Regions from separate parts of the Homo sapiens genome. Here all the other regions are reported to be linked to region 2. Evidence: microRNA targets listed by miRTarBase, many of them from high-throughput screens and not tested one by one. Region 2 holds a microRNA gene; each other region holds the end of a gene's coding sequence.

Region 1 (3,000 bases), not on the chromosome of region 2:
TTGAATTTTGTCAAATGCTTTTTCCACATATAATGGATGGTCTAAGCTTTTTTAAATCTGAAAAATAACAGGCTATGTAATCATGTATGCAGAACCTCCTTAGCCAGTACTCACTCCCTCCTCCCCCAGCTGCAGACTGCTGAGGCTGAACTGGAAGAATCCAACAGGCTCTTCCCAGAAGGATTTCCTGGACCTTTTCTTAGAAGGGCTACTCTAAGAGACTCTGACTCCATCCCTGTTCATTTTTCCCTGTTCTGAGGTCTCCAAAGTTTCAGCTCATCACAGCACCAATGCCCATTGCAAAGAACACATGATTTATTCAAGACAACTCGTCATCAACAGCACTGACTCAAGGAACAAAACAGATGAAAAAACTAAAGCAAACGTTCTGACCCTCTGGAGTGAGACCCGCTGAATTCATACAGCTCAATCTGTAAGTGTCCAAGATCCAGGGGGCAGGTTCTCAAGCAGGAAGCCTCAGGCACTCTGGCTCTGTGGGGACCTCCCTTGGGCATCTGCTTGAGAATCTGGGGAAGGGACATTATCAGGGCAGGTCCTTTCTGCAGGCGGTGTCCTGCTGGGAGCTCAGCCTAACCAAGGCCTGGTCCCTGTGCTCTTGACCTTCATCTCAAGGTCAAGGAGAGGGCACTTGACCCAACTCTGCCAGCGAGGCAAAGTAATGGTGATTCAAGTAGTGTGGTTCCAGGAGGGAAGGTAGGGGGCAGACAAGAGTGAGTGCACTAAAGAGTCCTGGGCAGTGTCTGCTGGGTCCCAGGCAGTGGCCCAAGCTTATGAAGGGGTTGGAGAAGGGGCTGAACCACCAGCTGACAAGTCCTGGAGAGAGGGTGGCCCAGGTGAGCAGGAAGCATCATGCCTCTGCCTCATCCTGGAGGTCCTGGAGTCAGCCCAGTTCTCTTCCCATCTTTACACTCAATTCCAGTACAGAACTCAGAGCCCGCTCAGCCAGGACCTGCTCGAAAACCAGGCAGTTCCTAGAAGCATGGGGAGAAGAGGCTGACTTTGATCTTGGAAAATGAAGAGGATCTTGTCTCCAACTCCTTTCTCCCTTCCTATACCCATGCCTCATCCCCAGAGCACTTGCCAATGTGCAATACATAGCCAGGAGTCTGAATAAATAGTCAAAGTCTCCCAAATACTGTGCTCTGGGAGAGGAGACAGGCAGGTGCGGAAATCCAGGCGGCATCAAAGGAAAAGCCTGGTAGAAGAGCCACCTGGGGAAGCCTTTCCTGGCCCAAAGCCGGGCTTGGAAGGGCAGCGAGAAGTCCTGCCCACCAGACTCGGAAAGCTTTGGGGGCAGGAGGGCTGCTGGGGCCTGACTCCTGCCAGCCAGTCTGGAGGACGAGGGTCCTCACTATGGCACCCGGCTTCCGGACGCAAACCTTGTACAAGGAGGGAGGTGACTTGGTGAGAACTGGGAGTGGCCAGCTGCCCCTGCTCAGGGTACACCTGCTCCAGCCCTGGGAACAGCTCAGGCAGGGGTCAGAGAAGGCCCTGCACCTCCCTCAGCCCGCAGCGGGTGGAGGGGTACACAGAGGCACAGACATGGCCCTCCTGGAACTGGCAGGACCCAGGGCCTTTAAGCTCAGCTACCCCTGGCCCCAGAGAGGCTTCCTCGGGCCCCACTTGCCCTTTGTGGGACTCACTCAACCCAACCCTGGGTTGGGACCTGGAAGCCGAGGGAATGACAACTCTTCTGAAGCAATGGGTTCCGACCCTGGGCTCAGAATCAAGGTCCTTTTCTTTTCGGACAGGAGGGCCTCTGGGGGAACCTCCAGAAAAACCAGCTCCCCCTCTTCCTTCTCCCTCCCTGGGCAGAAAGCAGGGGCAGGAGGCTCAAAGCTTCATCCTTACTCAGCAGCATTTGGTTTCCAAGATTTCTGTGTAGGGAACGGGTTCAGAACCCTCTAAGTGAGGCACGGAGGACTCCCTCCCAGTTGGGAGGACCTAGGAGCCAGGGCTGGGGGATGGGAACAGGAGGCAAAGGCCAAGCTTGACCTCCAGGGGCCTTGCTGAGCCAGTCTCCTCATCTGTCTCCCAGGTTCAGGGGAGCAGAGGCAAGCGGGGAGAGGAGGTGGCTCAGGATAAGGCACCCCAACAGAGAAGGGCAGGGAGAGTAATGGAGAGAGGAATCATGAAGCAAGACACAGTCCCACTCTGGGAAGGAGGTGGAAGGAGACAGGCAGAGAGGTAGAGACAGAGAAGGAGGGGCTGGGAGACCTGGAGGCCTGAGAGACCCTCACTCCCTAACACACACACACACACACACACACACACACACACACACACACACACACGGAGAAGATGCCTGGGGACTTGGGCCCACATTCACACCGACCGACTACAGACATCTGTGGGTGAGACAGACGGCAGGACTCAGCTTTCAGTGTCGCCTTCCCTGTGGAGCAGCCGAAGTGCCCCGCTCAGAAGCGGTTTCTGGCCCATTGGCCAAGCACCTCCCCTGAGTGGAGCCCAGGAGAAGACCAGAAGCAGGAACTGAGGCTGGGGCGGCAGAGCCGAGGCAGGGAGGGGCCCCTGCCAGCCTCCCAGTGCCAGAAACGGCCCTGGCCCAGGAAGGACAACTTCCCGAGCTCCAGCCCTCCTCAGTATCCTGGGCAAAGAGGGCAGAGTGCAGGGCAGGTGGGGAGCTGGGCGTGGCGGCAGAAGGAGCACGGCACAGTGTGTCCCCAGTGGGCATGGCCTGGGTCTCGGGCCGATCCTGTGGCTTCCCCTCAGGCTGGGTTCCTACAGGTTTCTATGTGTCCCGGGAGCCAGGGCACAGGGTCGGGAGGCTTCTCTCCGGAACATGGGCCTCTTGCCGCCGGGCTACTTTGAGTCTTGGAGCTCCTTGGCTTTCTGCAGGATCTGGCAGACATCTGTGATGGGGTAGTCCTGGGCACAGGAAAAGGCCAACAGTTGCCTCTGAAGCCACTTCACCCCTGCCACACCCACACCCTCCCTGCTGGGACCCGTTGCCATGCT
Region 2 (3,339 bases):
GGGGCCAGCCGCACGCCTGGCCAAGCCGCAGCCCCCCAGCACTGCCCGCGGCCTCGGCACACACCCTCCCTCCCTCCCAGCCTCCCCCTGCTGTCCCCACCAGAAGAGGGGCCCGAGCAGCCCACTCTGCCTCCAAGGCTGCCCTCTGGGGACAGCTGGCAGGCATGGAGGGATGCCAGAGCCCCCACCTCAAGCCTGCAGCTGAACCCACTGCACTCCTTCAACTTCGCCCTCCTCACCAGCCCCAACACCCCAAAAGTGAGACTGCAGACCAGGGCTGAGGGGGTCTGGGTGAGGGCACATGAGGCAGGCTGTGTGCAGGGCGAGGGACAGCGCCCCTGGCCTCCAGCCTCAGCCCCAGCCCTCTGGCCCCTGTCCCCAGCAAGGGGCCAGGATTTCACAAGGCTTTCAAGGGCTGCCCACCTACCGGGCACGATCTTCATCGGGGACGGTGGCAGGAGCCCACGGGGCAGACGGAGCGGGCCAGGGGTGTGGGAGGTCACAGGCCCCTCGGAGGAGGCACAAGCCACTGGCGGCAGCGTCGGGTGGGAGGAGGGCACGGCCGTGCTGCTGTCAGCAGCAGCTTGTGGGGGAGGGGAGCAGTGGGCAGGGGCCCAGGGGATATAAATATCCGAGGAGGGCGCGCAAGGACCGTCACCACCCAGACTTGGAACATGACGCACGGCGCCAGGGCACCCAGGCCCCGCTGCAGTCAGGTCTGGCTGGACGGTGCCACCCGACACCTCGGTCCCCCAGCTCCCACAGGGGGTTCTAATATAATAGAGCAGGGCGCGGGAGGTGCGGGCTCACGTCCCTGCAGGAGGCGGTGCAGTCCCCACCCACCTGCCCTGCCAAGCCAGGGGGTGCTCTTGGAAAGGCCACAGGGGCCAAGAGAAGAGGCCGCCCATTCTCCCAGAGGGCCCTGCGCAGGTCACTCAACACAGCACCTGGCCCCACCGGTGGCCGGGACAGCCACCCCAAAGTCACGCGCAGGCCAGAGACCCAGGCAGCCCGAAACCAGGGCTCAGGCCTGCGCCTGCCCCACAGCACAGCCTCTCCTGGGGTCCCAGGGATCTGGGATGGAGACGCCTCTCCTGGGCCACGGCAGGAGACTGGCCTGGCTCCACCCAGGAGTCCCGAAGCCCTGCTCTGTGGAAGGCCTGGGTCAGAGAGCCGGGCCACAGGCAGGCCCACAGCATATCCTATGCAGATCAGATCCCAATGCAGCCGGGGAAACAGGACGTGGGACACGCACAGTCCTGCTCCTCTTCCTGGGACCCCTGTCTGCTGGGCGCACCCCTCAGGCCCAGGAGAATGCACGTTGACGGTATACCCCATTCCACAGCGTCGCTCCTGGCACCACATGGAACCCTCAGCAAACCCCATGAAGTCCTATACCATGAAGGCCTCATACAGACCAGGAGCCTGAGGCGCCGCCTGCTGTCCCGCACGCTGCCATCTGAGCCCAGGTGGCCTCCAGTGTAGTTACCTCAGCCCACAGCAAGGCACAGTGAACCAGCCTGGCCCCGGGCCACTGGGCAGGCCACCCAGGTCCATGCTGGGAAGCCCGCGGACAACAAGAGGGCCGGGCCCACCCCAGCCTCCTGCTCTCCAGCCCCACACCTCAAAAACGTGCGGCCGAGGGAAATGCCTGCAGTGGCCCACTCTGGGCGGCCAGGGGTCGGGCGGGCCCAGGCAGCCCTGAGGGTCAGGGATACCCAGGCATGCCAGAAAGGGCCCAACTCCCAGCTGAGCCCAGGACAGCATCTGGCCAGCAGTGGGCAGGGGCCGACAGGCCGGACGTTTCAGCCCACTCCCTGCCACGTGCTGGGGAAGCCTCAGAGGAGCCTGACTCAATGGCCTGGGTGAGAACCAGCTCCTGGCGGGAGGAGTGCCCCAGGCTGGCAGCGGGCAGTTCTTCTACCACTCCACGGAGGTCCGGACAGGCCTGTGCTTCCGGGACACACATCACACACACCCCTGGGGCAGCTCCGAGAGGGGGCTGTGCCTATCCCTGCATCCCAGGTCTGACGGCACAGAACGGTGGACAACGGGAAGAGACAGGTCTGCCAGAGGCGGCCCCGGCCCTCTCCTCTGCCTCCCACAGCCCCCAGCTCTGCCTGCCCTACCTTGGCCCAGCTGAATCAGCTCCTCCATGCTGTACCTGTCCATGGCTGCCACACAGGCCAGGCTGCTCCGAGAGCCGGCAGGGAGGAAGGCGAGGCAGGAAGGAGGGAAGGGGTGGGAGGCAGAGGGAGGGCCCACTCATGCCCTGGTAGCAGCGGCTCCTCCTCGCAGCCACCCCTTAGTCAGTAAGCAGAGATGAAGCCCAGCCGACTGACGGGTCAGACCAGCCCAGCAGACCTGCCTGGGGGTGCAGGGGACTGGCCTGCCTGCAATCCCAGAGAGCCCTCCGGCCCCAGCCCACGGGTCTTCCCTACTGTTCCTGCCCCGCCCAGCAGACCCCCCGCCCAGCAGACCCCACCCTGTAGCCTCCCCTTCCCGCTGCAGGCCCCACCAGCCCAGCCCTGCCCTCCCACCCTCCCACCCACATTCCAGGCATCCATGTGCCCAGCGGTATTTCAGGAGCCAGGCGGGAGCAGAGCCCCAAACTGCCCACCACACCCCACTCCTTGAGACTCACATTCCTCAGCCCCAAAGGTGGTCTCTTCCTCCACCTGAGTCCTCCCCAACCAGCACAGCCCCAGGCATCTGTCCAGGGGCAATGGTGACACCTGCCTCCCCTCTCCATACCTCTCCACCCAGGTGCTTGCTGACCAGTGAAGTGCAAATCAAATCCCATCGTAACTACCCCTTAGAAGCCTGCCGGCGATCTACAGAAATCCCGCAAACGGGTGACTCGGCCAAGCCAGTGATCCCTGTGGAAAGCTGGCCGGGCCATAGTCCCTCCACCTAGAGCACCCTGTGGCTGGGAAGAAGGGCAAGGCAGCCAGGCCACCTCCAGGCTTCCTCCTTGACGCAGGGCCACAGAGGGTCAAGGGGGGAGGTCAAGGCACAGGCGTGTCCTCCGTGTAGAGGGGAAGTCATGGTGGCTACCCAACCCCTGCCCTTTGCTGTGGGAAGCAGCTCTAGGTGCTGTGCGTGTACAGCGCTCACCGTGGTGGCGGCTACCTGGCCCCTGCCCGTTGCTGGTGCATGGACAGCGCTCAGCTGGCGTCTCCTCCACACAATCCTCGGTTCCTTCAGAATTTTGAGCCAGGCAAAGCATCGCCATTTGCAATGTAAATTAGGGCTGGGCGGTAGCTATAATCCCAGCACTTTGGGAGGCTGAGGCAGGCGGATCACCTGAGGTCAGGACTTCAAGACCAGCCTGGCCAA
Region 3 (3,163 bases), not on the chromosome of region 2:
AAAGGCCATTATGAGAAAAATATCTGAGTGTACACAGTAACACACACGGCAAAGGCAAAGTTATTCCAGAGGTAATATGTAACTGGCAAAATTTTCCTCAAATTCTTTCCTCTTTTTACTATGACCTAAGCTGCACACACATTTCTGCCTCTGCATCCTTGATTGTACACGCTGCAAATATAGTCAATTTGCATTATTTGTGGTACTTATGTTCCATAAAGTCCACAAACACTGAAGTAGTGAATACCAAATCACTGCTCCTAGAAAACATACAGGGTTAGGTTTCTGCAAGCTTTGTTTTTGTCAACAGAACAATGCAACATATTGTTGATTCAGTAACACTGAACTCTCTGCCAACAGCATTATAACTTGTGCATGAATGAAGCTTATCTAATATACTTATTTTCTCCTAAGCCTTCCTGAGCTTAGGAACATCAGAAAGCACTCCAGCAGGGCATTTGGAGGCCATTTTAAACAGTAAAATCACCAACAAAAAGAACAGAAATTAGGAAGAGATGGGACTAAGTAGACTCAAAAAGGATACATGTTTACGGTATGAGAGCTGAAACTAGAAGGCAGAGTACCATTTGTTTCACTTCTGTTGGGAGGTGACTCACATTTTTGCCTACAAATGGCTCAAAAGCACTTGTGCAAGTACTGGTTCTGGGGTTATGGATAGATTTGAGCAAGGAGGCAAATTTACAAATATAAAATCCACAAATAATGAGGATATTTCAATTCCTTCAATGTGGTTGGAAAGCACAATTGCCCCAATAGGACAGTCAGAAACCAGGACTAGGAACTTGTATGAAAAAAGAACCTAGTCTTAATTGCCACCATCTATGTCTAAAATAAATTCTCAGGGAAGCAGAATTCTTACCTCTGTATGCTGTACATTTTTTCTATTAAAAAATGTCATAACTTCATTAAGCAGGTGAACTAAAATTTAAGAGACATCAATCAAAGAAATGACTAATGAATTTCACTTTAGTTTTTATTTTATTGTAAAACATTGAGATGGAATGATAGGGTTTCCCAGAATCAGGTCCATATTTTAACTAAATGAAAATTATGATTTATAGCCTTCTCAAATACCTGCCATACTTGATATCTCAACCAGAGCTAATTTTACCTCTTTACAAATTAAATAAGCAAGTAACTGGATCCACAATTTATAATACCTGTCAATTTTTTCTGTATTAAACCTCTATCATAGTTTAAGCCTATTAGGGTACTTAATCCTTACAAATAAACAGGTTTAAAATCACCTCAATAGGCAACTGCCCTTCTGGTTTTCTTCTTTGACTAAACAATCTGAATGCTTAAGATTTTCCACTTTGGGTGCTAGCAGTACACAGTGTTACACTCTGTATTCCAGACTTCTTAAATTATAGAAAAAGGAATGTACACTTTTTGTATTCTTTCTGAGCAGGGCCGGGAGGCAACATCATCTACCATGTTAGGGACTTGTATGCATGGACTACTTTACTGCATATATTTCAAGTTGCCCCCGCTTTTTTTTTCAACCACGCATTAACTCAAGATCAATGTATGTTCCATTAGAATAAGATTTATTAACTAGGAATTGCCAGAAAATCTTCCTGGTAACAAGGAAGTCCCCGTATTGTGAGTCTTAAGATTTTTCTGAAGAGAAAACCATACATATATAGCCTTTTTTCAGATGCTCAAAGAGGTCTAAAATCCTCTCCACCTCCAAAATAATAAGAAACATCTCAGCTGGGCACAGTGGCTCACGCCTGTAATCCCAGCACTTTGGGAGGCCAAGGTGGGCAGATCACTTGAGGCCAGGAGTTCAAGACCAGCCTAGCCAACATGGTGAAATCCCATCTCTACTAAAAATACAAAACTTAGCTGGGCATGGTGGTGCACCCCTGTAGTCCCAGCTACCCAGTAGGCTGAGGTAGGAGAATTGCTTGAACACGGGAGGCAGAGGTTGCAGTGAGCCGAGATCGTGCCACTGCACTCCAGCCTAGGTGACAGAGAGAGACTCTGTCTCATTAAAAAAATTAAAAAAAAAAAATGCTGGGTGAGGTGGCTCATGCCTGTAATCCCAGCACTATGGGAGGCCAAGGAGGGTGGATTAGTTGAGGTCAGCAGTTCCAGACCAGCCTGTCCAACATGGTGAAACCCCATCTCTACTAAAAATACAAAAATTAGCTGGGCGTGGTGGTGTGCACCTGCAATCCCAGATACTTGGAGGCTGAGGCAGGAAAATCACTGGAATCCGGGAGATGGAGGTTGCAGTGAGCTGAGATTGCGCCACTGCACTCCAGCCTGGGTGACACAGTGAGACTCCATCTCAAAAAAAAAAAACATGAATCATCTCACTGATCCTCTTATTTTACAAAACAGTAATATGCAGTATTGTTTAGTTTAACTTGCCATCATTCAGTAGCTAACCCTATTCTCCAAAGTTCTGGTAGCTCTAACAAACTGTAACTTTATAAACAGAGACAGGCACTTTGGTTCTATTCTAATACTTTCACAAACATACTGCATTTATAACATTTAAAAGATTTTAATTACTGTCAAATATATCTGGATTACATCTTTTTTTTTTCTTTGATAGCGTTTCACTCTTGTTGTCCAGGCTGGAGTGCAATGGGGTGATCTCAGCTCACTGAAACCTCTGTATTCCAGGTTCAAGCGATTCTCCTGCCTCAGCCTCCCAAGTAGCTGGGATTACAGGCACCTGCCACTAAGCCCAGCTAATTTTTTTGTTATTTTAGTACAGACAGGGTTTCACCATGTTGGCCAGGCTGGTCTCAAACTCCAGACCTCAGGTGATCCACCCACCTCGACCTCCCAAAGTGCTGGGATTACAGGCATGAGCCACTGTGCCTGGTCTGGATTACATCTTAACCTACAATATTTCATGAAGTTAATGATTTTAAATAAAAGGAAATCAAGTAACATCTGAATTTCTAAGTCTAAATACATTTAGATGATAGTGACTCCTGCAACTGTTTCAAAATTATTGGAAAATATGTCATTTTCTTGAAATGAACTTGGTATTAAAGGCAGCAAATATGTCTTTATAAGGAGTTTCTGAATCTGACTTGGTCGATGGTATTCGGCAAAGTTGGCGAAATCCAGGAGAACGCAGCAGCAAATTCTGTGAAAGGCCCACGAAGCTGGAGCA

Evidence for each region. The annotated mature microRNA hsa-miR-661 reads UGCCUGGGUCUCUGGCCUGCGCGU and lies in region 2 at 986-1,009, opposite strand. An mRNA with a match to its seed (bases 2 to 7 or 8) in the 3' UTR can be bound and repressed. Matches are read on the target gene's strand: a 7mer-m8 pairs with bases 2 to 8, a 7mer-A1 pairs with bases 2 to 7 and ends in A, and an 8mer does both.
Region 1: miRTarBase lists TBC1D13 as a target of hsa-miR-661. Seed matches in the 3' UTR shown: 7mer-m8 at 2,718-2,724 and 8mer at 2,324-2,331.
Region 3: the mRNA of COX18 is a reported target of hsa-miR-661. Seed matches in the 3' UTR shown: 7mer-A1 at 2,860-2,866 and 7mer-m8 at 2,294-2,300.

Annotation. Positions count from the first base shown.
Region 1 is chr9:128,807,724-128,810,723 of GRCh38, reverse strand. TBC1D13 (TBC1 domain family member 13) reads right to left here. Exons shown (of 12, transcript NM_018201.5): 12 at 294-2,910. The coding sequence ends at 2,845. Among named protein-coding and RNA genes, the nearest start is that of ENDOG, 9.3 kb to the left of the region's middle.
Region 2 is chr8:143,944,221-143,947,559 of GRCh38, forward strand. It overlaps MIR661 (microRNA 661), which reads right to left and starts at 1,059; the gene lies at 971-1,059. LOC124902040 (a long non-coding RNA gene) reads left to right here. Exons shown (of 2, transcript XR_007061144.1): 2 at 1,346-3,339. It also overlaps a transcript of PLEC not described here. RefSeq lists enhancers at 2,489-3,276, 3,277-3,339.
Region 3 is chr4:73,055,104-73,058,266 of GRCh38, forward strand. It overlaps COX18 (cytochrome c oxidase assembly factor COX18), which reads right to left. Exons shown (of 6, transcript NM_001297732.2): 6 at 1-3,163. The coding sequence ends at 3,011. Among named protein-coding and RNA genes, the nearest start is that of COX18, 13 kb to the right of the region's middle.